Homo sapiens: one gene and its partner. The protein of the gene in region 2 interacts with the protein of the main gene of each other region in a pairwise test. Each region holds a gene or a part of one and is shown on either strand. Other genes may lie near its edges. The genes, in order: ANKS1A and TOX2.

What was found.
Region 1: the proteins of TOX2 (region 2) and ANKS1A interact in a two-hybrid assay, tested with the Homo sapiens proteins (one large-scale study listed by BioGRID).

The regions. Positions count from the first base shown.
Region 1 is NC_000006.12:34,895,755-34,899,254, reverse strand, and holds part of ANKS1A (ankyrin repeat and SAM domain-containing protein 1A), read right to left. Parts: intron 1-3,500. UniProt on the Homo sapiens protein: Regulator of different signaling pathways. Regulates EPHA8 receptor tyrosine kinase signaling to control cell migration and neurite retraction.
Region 2 is NC_000020.11:43,917,615-43,921,642, reverse strand, and holds part of TOX2 (TOX high mobility group box family member 2), read right to left. Parts: intron 1-4,028. UniProt on the Homo sapiens protein: Putative transcriptional activator involved in the hypothalamo-pituitary-gonadal system.

The DNA of each region.
Region 1 (3,500 bases), on a different chromosome or scaffold from region 2:
AAGTTAACCATTAAAAAGTCCTGGGCTTGCACAAAGGTTACTTTCTGAATATAAGTAGTATTTAGCAACCATAAATCAGTATATTACTTCCCAGTCAGAAGGACCCAGGAGATGTAAGGGGCCTCAGAATTACTATGAGTCCTCAAATTCAACAACATGTATGTTTCTTGTTGATTTTGAGGTGCAATTTGAATATTCAGCTGTTGATTTCTGCAATGGCTGAATGTTGAAACTACACCTACCATTCTATTGAATATATCAAATGTTATAAGCAGAATGTACACACAAACTTATCCACATGCATGTTCATCACAGAGCTGTTCTAATAGCAAAAAACGAAAAACAAACTCATGTTCCATGTCAGGAAAGGGGTTAAATTAATTACAATTCATATATACCACGGATATCACATCCATTTAAAATGAGGTTGAGGAGGACAGAAAATATAGGAAAGTGTTTTCACAATATAGTTCGTGAAAACATGAGACAAAGTATATACAAAATAATGTCATTTCTGTTAAAAAAAAAAGTTTGCACAGAAAAAAACAAGATTGTACACCAAAATTTCAAGTTAATTTCTGTAGGTGGTAAAATTATAACTGATTTTATTTTCTTCTTAGTGCATTTCTTTGTCTTGCAATTTTTCTACCATAAAGGCAGAGGTTTACAGTCCCTTATCAACAATTCAGAAATCCAAAAAGCTCTGAAAATATATTTTCATAAGTTAGCAGCAGTCATTTAGCTGCAAAACCTGACCTACGCTGATATGAAGCGGCTTCATATTTATCCCATTTAGTCAATATTTACAGGTTTTGCTGTAGAAATACAATGTTTCCAGGGTGCTGCCACAGTCCCACTAGGGACTCAATATACAATATTGAGTCAGCACCCTGAAAACATATCTGGCCCCAAGGTTTCAAACAAAGGATTGTGGACCTGGATTGCTTTGTAACTTTGCCACCATTGCCAATTTTCAGGCTTTTTAAAACTATGGGACTCTTCATAGTTTAAAAGGTTGGGAGCTTCTGCTGTGAATTATTATAAATGTTAAAATGGCAACATCAATAAAAGATATGTCCTTAACAGGGTCCTCACTCTGATTCATCAAGGGTGGCAAGCACCTGGCTCCCATTAGATGATTCTAGCAGCTGAGGGTTACCAAACCCTTGCCATGTGCCAGGCATTATATGCCTTACATCCTTTAGCTCATTTAATGCTGCTTTAGAAGATAGGCACCATCCCAGGCCCATTATATATATGAAGACACAGAGGCGCAGAAAAGTGACTTAATTTGCCTAAGTCACAAGGCAGAGTTGGGTCAGAACCTGATCCTTAGCCACCATAGTATGTCCTCACCACTTAAGTAGGCCAGGAGGCAGTTCTGCTTCCTGGATCAGTGGTAATAATATCACAAACAGATACAACTATCTTGTTTCAAAGCAGAGACAACTGACTTGTTTTAAAAACTCTTTTTTGATTTGTAAACTAAACAAACTTGATCTACAAATTACTGAGAAAGGATAAATATGAAGACATACCATATAATTTCCAGTATTACTACCATTAACTCTAACCACACCAAAGTTATGTGAAGATGTTCTATGAATGTAACATATTATACGATATAATTTTCTCTACCACAGAAAATCTCCCAATAATCCTTTGGAAATCAGTGTGGGAAATATTTTCTGAGAGCTCTCCAAAAAAGAGACCAAGTTCCTACCCACAGGAGAGCCTGATTTTTCTAAGAACAAACTCTCCACTGTCTACTTCTGGGGTTTCCTTAGTGTTTCTGGGCTAAAAACCCAGTAATTTACTTTCCCTATGAAAGACTAGGGCAGAAATAGCCTGGACTTCCTTTTGCAAACCAGAATTCACAGCTGTTTGGGGTGAACAATCCAATGTGGGAAAAAGAACCTCCTGAAGGGATTTTTCTGGCCAAGAATGTAACTTTCACTGGGACCATAACCTCCTATGACCCGTGAACATGCTGAAGCTACTAGATACAAGTCAAATTCTTCAGATCACAAGCTTGTTTCATTGTTTCCTGTCTCTAATTTTTGCAACTAAGAAAGTAAAAACTGAACTTCAATTGGAGGATGCAGGAAAAAGGGAGACCACTGACTTTAAATCTTAAACTTTGTAGTAAATTTTCTTTTCACTGCAGCCTCAACCTTCCACCTTCTGGGCTCTAGCAATTCTCCCACCTTTGCGTCTCTGCCTCCTGAGTAGCTGGGGCCACAGGTGCATGCCATCACACTCAGCTAATTTTTTATTTTTATTTTTTTTGAGATGGAGTTTCGCTCTTTTTTGCCCAGGCTGGAGTGCAATGGCACGATCTTGGCTCACTACAACCTCTGCCTCCCAGGTTCAAGCAATTCTCCTACCTCAGCCTCCCAAGTAGCTGGGATTACAGATGCAGGCCACCACACCCAGCTGATTTTGTATTTTTAATAGAGATGGGGTTTTACCATATTGGCCAGGCTGGTCTCTAACTCCTGACCTCAGGTGATCCACCCGCCTCAGCCTCCCAAAGTGCCGGGATTACAGGCGTGAGCCACTGCGCCTGGCCTAGTTTTTTTATTTTTTGTAGAAACGAGGTCTTGCCATGTTGCCCAGGCTGGGTAAATTATCTTTAATTCTAAGTAAATGCCTTACTCAGTTTAAGATTAGGCACCTTCTAGATTTTTACATATAAAGTAACTACCACAAAAGTCATTTCCAAGCATGTTACCTTTTTTTGTTTCCTTTTGTTTTTTAACATGGGAACCACACTCTGCTTTAGAGAAAGCAAAAATGTAAGTACAGCAATTCCAAAATGCAGGAACAGGGCTGCCCTCCCAACAAAATCACACTTAAAGGGAGTATTTTAAGACATTCTTGGCTGGGCGTGGGGGCTCACACCTGTAGTAATTCCAGCACTTTGGGAGGCCGAGGCAGGCAGATCACTTGAAGTCAGGAGTTCGAGACTAGCCTGGCCAACATAGTGAAACCCCTGTCTCTACTAAAATACAAATATTCGCCAGGTGCAGTGGTGCATGCCTGTAATCACAGCTACTCAGGAGGCTGAGGCACAAGAATTACTTGAACCTGAGAGGCAGAGGTTGCAGTGAGCTGAGATTGCACCACTGTACTCCAGTCTGGATGAAGGAGTGAGACACTGTCTCTGAAAAAAAAAAGAAAAAAAAAAAAGGCCAGGCACGGTGGCTAACGCCTGTAATCCTAGCACTTCCGGAGGCTGAGGGTAGACTGCCTGAGCTCAGGAGTTCGAGACCAGCCTGGGCAACACAGTGAAATCCCGTCCCTACTAAAATACGTGCGCCTGTAATCCCAGCTACTCGGGAGGCTGAGACAGGAGAATCGCTTGAACCCGGGAGGTGGAGGCTGCAATGAGTCGAGATCGTGCCATCGCACTCCAGCCTGGGCGAGAGAGAGAGACACTGTCTCAGAAAAAAAAAAAAAAAAAAAAAAAAAGAAAGACATTCTTGAAAAACTATTTT
Region 2 (4,028 bases):
CGGGGCAGCTGTGGAGCATCCTCCAGCAGCTGGTACAGAAAAGCAAGTTCCTCTCGCATTTTAACTTTCAGTTGGGCTGCTCTTTGTGGATGAAAATGAAAGCATTTCCTGCTGGGGCCAAGTGCTACACATACATGGTCTCCAACCCTCAAGCTCCAAAGGGGAGATGTCAATGTCCCCATTTTACAGATGAGGAGACTGAGTCCAGGGAGGTTAAATAACTTGCCTGCCCTGATGGTGGTGAAGGCAGTGTTCAAACCCAAGTCTGCCAGGTTCCAGAATCCATGATGCCTTCATATCCTGAGACCAACTCTAGGAAATCAGAGAAGCAAAATAGATTGCCCTACAGAATCACATGGGGCAAGGAGCCACACAGCAGGGGGACTGCTGGACCAAGGGGGAGGCACAGGACCTTGTCCTTCATGCAGGCTCAGCTCCTCTTCCCGCCTACAGGCTGCTCTGTGTGCCAGGCTCTGTCCTCCGAGCCCACTTGGGGAAGCTCCTCTAGGAATGGAAGGTCCGCCAAAGACTCTGTGCCTCTGCGGGGTCCTGCCCTGGCTCCTTGTGCCCCACAAAGTCTTCAGATGACAACAGCCAAACAGATGCTAAGTTCCTCAAGCCACAGGTTACAACTGCCAAGCCCTAGATTCATTCATTCATTCAGCAAATATTTGCTGAGCATCTATGTGTCAGGCTAGCGCTGGGAATACAAAAGTAAAGGCAGACACAGTGGTTCCTGTCCTCTGAAGGATAGCAGGCCCATCTCCTCAAAAAGCACCATTCCCACCAGCATTCCCTCCCAGTGCACCCTCCACAGTTAGAAATGACATTCCCAGCCTTTATTTCATTATATTTCCACCCCCACACCATCCCTCTAGGCTGATGGTCACCGGTTTGCCTTCCCTTTGCACACAGGGAAACAGAGGCCCAAAGAAGGGTGCTGACAGGCTCAAGGTCACCCAGCAGATCGGGGGCAGCAGTGCCAGGCTTGGGCTGCTGGTCCTGCCATGCAAACATCCTGGGGTCCTTCCTGGAGGAGCCTCCAGCACAGGTTGGGGGAGGAGCTATAGGGAGCATGTTTAGATGGAAAGTAAATGAGAGCTTCCTAGCAGAGATGCAGACATCCATCTAGCGTTCCCTGGGACCAGCCATCTCAGCTCTAAGCCCACCCATCCCAGGGTACCTTCCATGGGACCCATTAGCAGCCACCTGTGCCCCTGAAGAAAGGAGCTGTGGGAATCTCACCCACCAAGTATGCCGGGCAGGCCTCACATAGGTCAAGTCCAGATCAAGTCCATAGTTTAACCCCACTTCATGAATTTTTGTCAAAAAGAGTCCTCAATCATTCATTAACCAAGCTTGTCCAGATCTCATCCTTACAAGATGCTGTGCCCAGAGCTGTGTGGGTGGGAAGTTGAATCCTTCACCCACCAGCACATATTTACTGAGCAATTATGAGTCAGGCACGATGCCAGGTGCTGGGCAGAATTCCTGCCTGCCAGGAGCCCACAAAAGCCTGTACACAAACAACCAAACAACTGCTACACAAAGTGTGGTCCTTGGATCAGCAGTAACAACACCTGGGTAGCTCATTAGACATGCAAATTCCTAGGACCCCATGCCAGACCAACTGAATCCAATCTCTGGGGGTGGAGCCCAAGAATCTGTTTTTACAATCTCGCCAGACAAAAGACACGGAATCAACCCAAATGTCCATCAGTGTTAACCTGGATAAAGAGAATGTGGTACACATACACCATGGAATACTATGCAGCCATAAAAAGGAACAAGATCATGTCCTTTGCAGTGGCATGGATGGAGCTGGAAGCCATTATCCTCAGCAAATTAACATAGGAACAGAAAACCAAACACCGCATGTTCTCACTTATAAGTGGGAGCTGAACAATGAGAACACATGGACACAGGGAGGGGAACAACACACACCGGGGCCTGTCAAGTGCCGGGGGGAGGGAGGGAGTGAGAGCATCAGGATAAATAGCTAATGCATGCGGGGCTTAACTCCTAGGTGATGGGTTCATAGGTGTAGCAAACCACCATGGCAGACGTTTACCTATGTAACAAATATACACATCCTGCACATGTATCCTGGAACTTAAAATAAAATTTAAAAAAAATCTTGCCAGCTGATTCTTCATGTGTACATAGATTTGAGAAACACTATTCTAGACCACAAGGCCTTCCTCAACTTCCCTATTTAACAATCACAAACCAGCCCCAGGCCTTGGGACTCCCAACTCTCTTTCCTGTTCCATTTTTCTCCAAAAGTCATATTCCCATCAATCATGATACCATATATTTCACCCATATATTTATGACTTCCCACACTGATAAATAAGCTCCAGAGGGCAGTGATTTGAGTGACTTTTGTTCACTGCTGCAGCATCAGTTGCTGTGCACAGTGCCTAGCACCAAGAAGTGCTCAATAAATATTTTTGGTAGAATGATGGATGGCAGAACATGCCACATCCTATGCAGTATCAGTTCTTGGGGAAGCCTGGAAAGAAAGAGAAGTTTGCTGGCTGTGAAGCACCACATGGGGAAGGTGGTACCCAGGTTGGCCTTGATGAAGGCCTTCATCCCTTCAGTCCAGGGACGAAGGATGCTGGAACGGAGATGCTAAGCCTCTTCCTGGAATGGGCCCCAGATGGTTGATATTGTTGTTATCTAATTAGTAGCTGGTATGTGCCAATAACTGTCCTAACCTGTATCACCTCACTTAACCGTCCTGAAACTCAGAGGTAGGCAATGTTGTCTTTGAGAGAACACCAAGACTCAGAGATATTAAATGATTTTCCCCGCCCACAAAAAGACTTGTATAAGAATGTTCACAGTAGCTTTACTTATAATAGCTCCAACTTGGAAACAAACCCAAATGTCCACCTGCAGGTGAATGGATAAACCAATTGTATTATATTTATACAATATAATATTACTCAGCAATTAAATGGAACAAACTATGGATATATACAACATCGTGGATGAATGTTGAAGACATTACATTGAGCAAAAAGAAGACAGACACACAAATGTTTATGCTGCATATCAAGTTCTAGAACTTAAGCATGGTTAATATACCTAAATTGAACTTAAAGAAAGCATTGGTAACAGAAATCAGGTAAGTAGTTGCCTCTGGAGGTGGGGATAAGGCGTGCTGTCTATAAAGGGATGTGAGGGAACTTCCTGGGATGACGGAAATGTTCTCTATCTGGACTGGGATGCTGGTTACATGAGTGTTAATATTTATCAAAACTCATGGAACTGTACACTTAAAATCTTCATGTTATTGTATGTAAATCACATCTCAGTAAAAAATGAGCTAAAAATCATTTGCCCTAGGTCACTAAGCAACAAATGGACATTTGAACCCAGGCTTGCCCAGTTCTGATGGCTAGTTTACACTAGTCTGCCATAGTTGAGCAGGGATCCCCCAGCTGTCCCCCAGCCTGGTAAGATGCCTTGCCAAAATCTGAACCAGGAGTTCATAGTTACCCTAAGAAAGATGTTACAGGCTCTAAACCCCTGAACCATGACAGAGACTTGCAAAAAAGCCAAACAAGTGTCCTGCTGGGAGTCAAACCTGGGCTCAGGCCTCATCTTTGTTCCTTACTTGCTGTGTAATCTGTGAGTTACACTCCTCTGTGACTCAGTTTCCCCTTCTGTAATGCAAAGAAGGAGGAGACCAATGGTTCCCAGCATGGAGCCACAGATCCTGGGAGCCATGGGGCCACAAATCCCTATGCTCAAAAAGCACCTTTATTACATTAAATAGTAATGAGTCTTCTTCATACCTGTTAAGCTATTTTTCTAATGCATGCTAATATTGTGTTTAATAAAATACACATCTATTTCAAAGCAAAAATAAAACCATAACAGCTTTTCATTAGTGTGCATTTTCTCAAACAAAAGATACCAAAAGAACAACCAATGTTCGTGACTTTGGTTTAAAGAGGCTGGGAATCTCTGTGTAGAGGATCGCTAAGGGGACAGTCGCCAAGGGGATGGTCGCC